2 linked regions of the Homo sapiens genome follow. The protein of the gene in region 1 purifies or fractionates together with the protein of each later gene. This does not show direct contact. Each region holds a gene or a part of one and is shown on either strand. Other genes may lie near its edges.

Region 1 (2,835 bases):
CCTGTTTGACTTTGGGATATATGATTTACTGGCAGCATAACTTTTATTTAGATCAATATTAACTTAGGATGAACCCTTGAGGTCAGAGAGAGAGGCAACTGGGAGTATGCAGGTTTATATACAAAGGCTAAGAATAAATTCACTATGTTTGGATGCTTTCCACATTATTCATGTTACCATTGCTAATGAAATATTAGGCAGCAAAAGGTTGAAAATACTAGCTATGAAAATGAAGTATTTTGATTACTTATGGTCTTAAATCATTCTATTCCAATTCTATTTCTTAGAATATAATTTTCCTTCAGGTTGAAGAACTGGGAATAGAATGGATTATTAAAGTGTATAACTTGAGGTTAAGAGTTTGGTTCTAAATAAAGAAAGTTCATAACTAGGTAGCTAGGCTTTTTTATTTTTTATTTTTAAGACAGGGTATCACTCTGTAATTGTCTCACTGCAGCCTCGACCTCCTGGGCTCAAGCAATCTCCACATCTCAGCCTCTGAAGCAGCTGGGACTACAGGTATGCGCCACCATGCCTGGCTAATTTTTAAATTTTTTGTAGAGATGGGGGTCTCCCTACGTTGCCTAGGTTGATCTTGAACTCCTGGGCTTCAGTGATCCTCCTGCCTCAGCCTCCCAAAGTGCTGGGATTATAGGCATGGGCCACTACACCTGGCCCCAAATCATTTAGTTAAGTAATATCTTAGAAGTACAATTCTAGATTAAAGAGTCTTCATATTTTCATCACTCTTGTTGTAGTTTATAAACTAACCTACAAAAAGTTGAATCAGTTTACATTCTGTCTAGAAAGGTGTGGAGAGGTTTAATAGAGGAAGGAATACTTGAACTGAGTCACCAAATCTGATAAGTTTGCCAGGTCGAGGAGCATATTCCAGGCATATGCAAAGACAAAGAGTCATCTAATAGTAAGGTATGTTTGGGGATTCCCTCCTAAGAGAAAGAGTTACACTACTAGTCTTCGACTTCCACTTAAGCCTATGGCTATACTGTCCTAGGAAGCCTCGCAACCGAGACTGCATTACTTTGGTTAACCTCTTTGTTCTTGGTTCTGCTTGACTGACTTTGACACAGTACCATATTCATTCAACAAGTATTTATGGAGTTCCTACTAGGTACAAGGTAATAAGGAGATAGAAAATGGGAGGAGATAAATTCATGTAATGAACCAAAATATTTGGACTTTTTAAAAGGCAGCTAAGATCCACTGAAGTGTTAAGCAGGAAGTGTTAACTCAGCTGTTATACGAATCTGCCTCTGCAGGGTTGAGTATGGATTAAATAAAGGATGGACTAGGGACAGGGGGAACAGTTAATGGACTAAGGCAGTTGTCCATGCTAGAGATAATGAGGGCCTAAAGTACGGTAGGAGAGAGAGAGAGAGAGAAGGGGATGGATATGAGTGACATTAAGAAGGTGAACTGGCCGGGCGCAGTGGCTCATGCCTGTAATCCCAGGACTCTGGGAGGCCGAGGCAGGCGGATCACGAGGTCAGGAGATCGAGACCATCCTGGCTAACACAGTGAAACCCCGTCTCTACTAAAAATACAAAAAATTAGCCGGGCATGGTGGCAGGTGCCTGTAGTACCAGCAGCTCTGGGAGGCCGAGGCAGGCGGATCACGAGGTCAGGAGATTGAGACCATCCTGGCTAACACAGTGAAACCCCGTCTCTACTAAAAATACAAAAAATTAGCCGGGCATGGTGGCGGGCGCCTGTAGTCCCAGCAGCTCTGGAGGCTGAGGCAGAAGAGTGGTGTGAACCCGGGAGGCGGAGCTTGCAGTGAGCCGAGATCGTGCCACTACACTCCAGCCTGGGCGACAGAGCAAGACTCCGTCTAAAAGAAAAAAAAAGAAAAGAAGGTGAACCTGTCCTTGCCTTCAAGAAACAAGTACCTCCACAATCTAGTGGGAGATACTAAAAAACAAGTAAGGCAATAATTAAAATACAGTGTCCTAAATGCTGTGATAGGTGTTAAGTACAGTAGAGCGCCATCTAATGCTCTAATTAGTGGATGTGACATTGAAGCTGAGACATAAAAGGGATAAAGAAAAGAATTCTAACAATGTGCAACAGCTTAGTGGAAAAGGAGATAGGACCCATGCAAATAATTTAATTCTACTGGCTGGTTATTAGGAATACAAGAATGGGGAGTTAATAAGAAGGCAAGAGAAGTAGATGTTAGATTATAAAGAACCTTAAATCCAAGTGAAATGCTTGAACTTTATTGCCCAGGATGGAGTGCAGTGGTGTGATCACGGCTCACTGCAGCCCCGACCTCCTGGGCTCAAGCAATCCTCCCCCTTTAGCCAGCATGTGCCACCACGCCTGGCTATTTTTTTTTTTTTTTTTTTTTTGTAGAGATGAATCTCACTTTGTTGTCCAGGCTGGTCTCAAACTCCTGGGCTCAAGCAGTCCTCCTGCCTTGGCCTCCTAAAGCACTCGGATTACAGGCATGAAGGCTTTGGATTTATACTTCAGGGACACCGCCTAGAGATTTTAAGCATGGAGAATGTACAATACTTGGCAATAGGTTGAATTAGGGTGAGAGAAAGAGAAGTCAAGCATCATGTCCTTTATGATATAATGATTACAAGCTCAAACCAGAGTGCCCTCATTCAAATCCCAACTCTATCCTTTATCAGTTGAATGACCTAAGGCAGATTACTTTTCTATGTCTCAGATTTGTTATCTAATATGTGGATAATGACAGGACTCATCTCATATTATCAGGCTGAGTCTGATGAGCTAATACATATAAAGTGGTTAGAAGAGTGCCTGGCACTGAAGAAAGTACACAATATGTGCTAACTATTTTAT
Region 2 (3,500 bases), on another chromosome or scaffold:
ACAAAAAGATACAGTAAGGTAAGAGATACACGATAGATTAATAAAACATTAAAAAGCTGTAAATTTTAGCCTTATGCTTTAGCTTCCAAAAACTAAGTAGAACTCTTGGCCACCTAATTCCTGCCCCCCACTTTAGCATACACATCTGTTCTTCTTTCCTGCTATACTTTTCAATTAGTCACTTCTATTCTTATTGTAATTTTACTAACAGGCAAATAAATGATTAGGAAGACTGAATGCATATGTGAATGTGATAACCTCCCTTTGCTCTGGGTCAGTGGGTCATTTTCCACCTATCTCTTCTCTAAGAATGCTGTTTCTATACTAGCAAATAACATTTGTGAAAATATTTATATAACGTATGAGAACGAACTTTTTTTTTTTTTTTGAGATGGGAGTCTCACTCTGTTGCCCAGACTAGAGGGCAGTGGCGCGATCTTGGCTCACTGCAACCTCTGCCTCTCAGGTTCAAGTGATTTTCCTGCCTCAGCCTCCTGAGTAGCTGGGACTACAGGCACCTGCCACCATGCCTGGCTAATTTTTGTATTTGTAGTAGAGACGGGGTTTCACCGTGTTGGCCAGGCTGGTCTCGAGCTCCTGACTTCAAATGATCCACCCACCTCAGCCTCCCAAAGTGCTGGGATTACAGGCGTGAGCCAACCCGCAGGGCCAAGAACAAACTTTTGACAAAGAAATAAATCATAACATTTAATTTTTGATTCATAATTATCCCTGTTTCTATTAATTCATTTATAAAAACTGCCTATTTCTATTTATTGATATCTAATTTATAAATAATTACCTTCACAAATTCCATAGCAAAGAGTTTTTTGTATTCCATCTCCATAAAAAAACTGCTGAAGATCAATTCATGAAGGATCTTACGGGCACCTATAGATTATTTTGGGGAGGGTGGGGGAATGAGGAGAATCACCAAGGCAAAAACCAAAAACATTCTGGCTATTAGAGTGGCAGAATATTATAAAATTACTTCACATGCAAACAGACCTCAAATAGTATTTATTGTATTAATATTTAATAACTGGAATTTAAAATACACACATATATTGCCTTTTCCCTCTTTTTCTGCACCCCTCCCACCACTTCATCTTACACTTCAATTTACTCTCTCCCAACCTTTTCATTCTTTTTCTATTTCACTGTACTTTTCCTTCTCCATGCTTTTAGCCTTTTACGTTTTGTTCTTCATTTAGATTTTTACAATGAAAATAGCATCTTTTTCGCTACTCGATAATGGCACTACTACCTGAATATATAGATACATGTATAGACACATACATATATACTCTTTTTGACTGGCTCTCACTAAATGAAAAGACTCTATAATTAAAAGACAACATCCCTGGGTTTTAACACCAAAGAATACATACTGACTGGTTAAACTTTATATTCACATGTAGTATCTTATCAATCAAGATTACAGATTTAATAACTAATTTAATAAACAAAAGATATTACAGCTCCACTTTAAGGTCATAATCTTCCTTTGCTTCCTGACAAACAGCATAAGCAAATGTCTACTTACCTTTATAAAGCTTTGCATCCCAAAGCATTAACCTGCTTATGAGACAGGGATTCTCCGAGTCAGGTTCTTCTCTAAGGCATGCTTGGCAAAAGATCTGCCTAAAGTCACCTACAAACAAAAGAGGTCACACAGTTACACAACTTGTATTCTTTTTCTTTTTAAATAGAGATGAGTCTCACTCTGTTGCCCAGGTTGGTCTTGAACTCCTGGGCTCAAGCGATCCTTCCACCTCAGCCTCTCACAGTGCTGGCATTACAGACATGAGCCCCTGTACTCAGCCATAATTTTTATTCTTATAACATTTCTCCTAAAAGTACATTTCCTATAACATGTGAAAAGAATAATATTAATCCTCCCACATTTGAGGCAAAGAATAATTCTGTCAACATCAAAGACTCAACAGCCAATAAAAAGATATTATTTGATACTATGCACTTGAAATAATATCCTAAGATATTATACATTTGAAATGCAACCCTGAAAATTAATCAAAGTGTATAAACCAAAAAAAAAAAAAAAAGAAAAACTTTATTTCATACTCAATGACATTTTAAAATTTGTGGCTATAAAACACATAGTATTTTATCAGAAACAAGAAAAACAGGAGGTATGCTTACTTGAATAGCTCATAATTTTGTTCATCCAGGAACCAAGACGCAAAGCAAATTTCTGATGAGCCATAATCTCTGAGTGTAATACTTCTACATGAAGTGGATGTTGAGAGACATTTTCTGAATGACTCTACAAATGAAGGGAACGAACCAAAAAAATAGCATTTAAAATTTGCTTTTAGTTAAGGGATTTATACTTCAAATGAAGAAATCACATAACCCTGCCAGTTCCAAATCTCTGCATCTAGGTGCCCCAAACCACTTCAACGACATCATCACTCAAATTATTCTACTTGGGCTCTTGTAATGTACATTCATCTTTAACTTCTCTTTTTCCCCCTAATTCAGAAAGTTACCTTTATATCTTCCTTTGCTTCCTGGCAAGCAGCATAAGCTCCCGCTTTAACAGCCCGACGACCCTAATTATAGACAAAAGTGAGAATTAGGTAGTGAAATGATAACCACAATCAATAAGCAATATGTAGCCCAAAGACTTAATGAGCTCTTAACTGAGCTCTAATCGCGTGTTGACTAAAAGTTGTAAGATACCGGAACAATATCTGAAAGACAGATGCAAATGTTTAACACCTTTATGAAGTATGAAAACTTTAATACCTCTAGGACAGACAGTCTATAGTTTAAGATGCTGAGTTTCTTGCCTGGCAGGAATGGCAGTTCTTTAGTTACTGCAGTGTCCTCTCTACTTATATGAAACAATGACTCAGGCTTTCTAAACTTCTGCTATGTATTTAAAATATTTTTCATGAATGAATTCACAGCTCTTCAACATGTATCCTATGATATACTTGTGGCCCATTAACGAGCGGGAAGTATAGCTGGACTACTGATTCCACCAGTCCTGGAGGCGGTCATGCAAGGTCTATGTAGGATTTCCTTGTAGCTCATTCTTTTACCCACCTGTAAAAATTCATCATTTTCTATATGTGCCATGTGAAAAAAGTCAGGAAGCACTGTCTTCCTCATTTAACCTTTACAATGACCCTATGAAGAAGGTATACCACATTTTACAGATGATAAAAAGAAAAATAAGACAGAAGTTAATTTGTCCCCCAATCAGAAAGTTAGCAAGTGACAGATTCAGAGATCCATGACAAGCATTTCATCTCCAGAGTCTGTACTTTTAACCATCCTGTAATATTCCCTCTTTAGCTGCTTAGTACATAAGCATAAGAACTATCCAAATATATTTGGACTACTAATTACACCAGTAAGGTTGCCATTACAGAAAAAAAAAAAAAAAGCACAAAAAGCCAGGCCATAAGAGATTGTTAAAAGAACAGATTGGACAAGAATAGTTACATAAACTCGAGCTCAATCAGCTT

What was found. The genes of interacting proteins can lie anywhere in the genome.
Region 2: the proteins of LIPT1 (region 1) and UBR1 purify together in Homo sapiens (affinity purification with mass spectrometry; 3 studies listed by BioGRID and IntAct, with this or other methods). This does not show direct contact.

What each region holds. Positions count from the first base shown.
Region 1 is NC_000002.12:99,157,967-99,160,801, reverse strand, and holds part of LIPT1 (lipoyl amidotransferase LIPT1, mitochondrial precursor), read right to left. Parts: intron 2,506-2,835; exon of another isoform or gene 2,390-2,505; intron 1-2,389. UniProt on the Homo sapiens protein: Lipoyl amidotransferase that catalyzes the transfer of lipoyl moieties from lipoyl-protein H of the glycine cleavage system (lipoyl-GCSH) to E2 subunits of the pyruvate dehydrogenase complex (PDCE2).
Region 2 is NC_000015.10:43,057,539-43,061,038, forward strand, and holds part of UBR1 (E3 ubiquitin-protein ligase UBR1), read right to left. Parts: intron 2,577-3,500; coding exon 2,514-2,576; intron 2,288-2,513; coding exon 2,164-2,287; intron 1,655-2,163; coding exon 1,547-1,654; intron 892-1,546; coding exon 803-891; intron 1-802. UniProt on the Homo sapiens protein: E3 ubiquitin-protein ligase which is a component of the N-end rule pathway. Recognizes and binds proteins bearing specific N-terminal residues that are destabilizing according to the N-end rule, leading to their ubiquitination and subsequent degradation.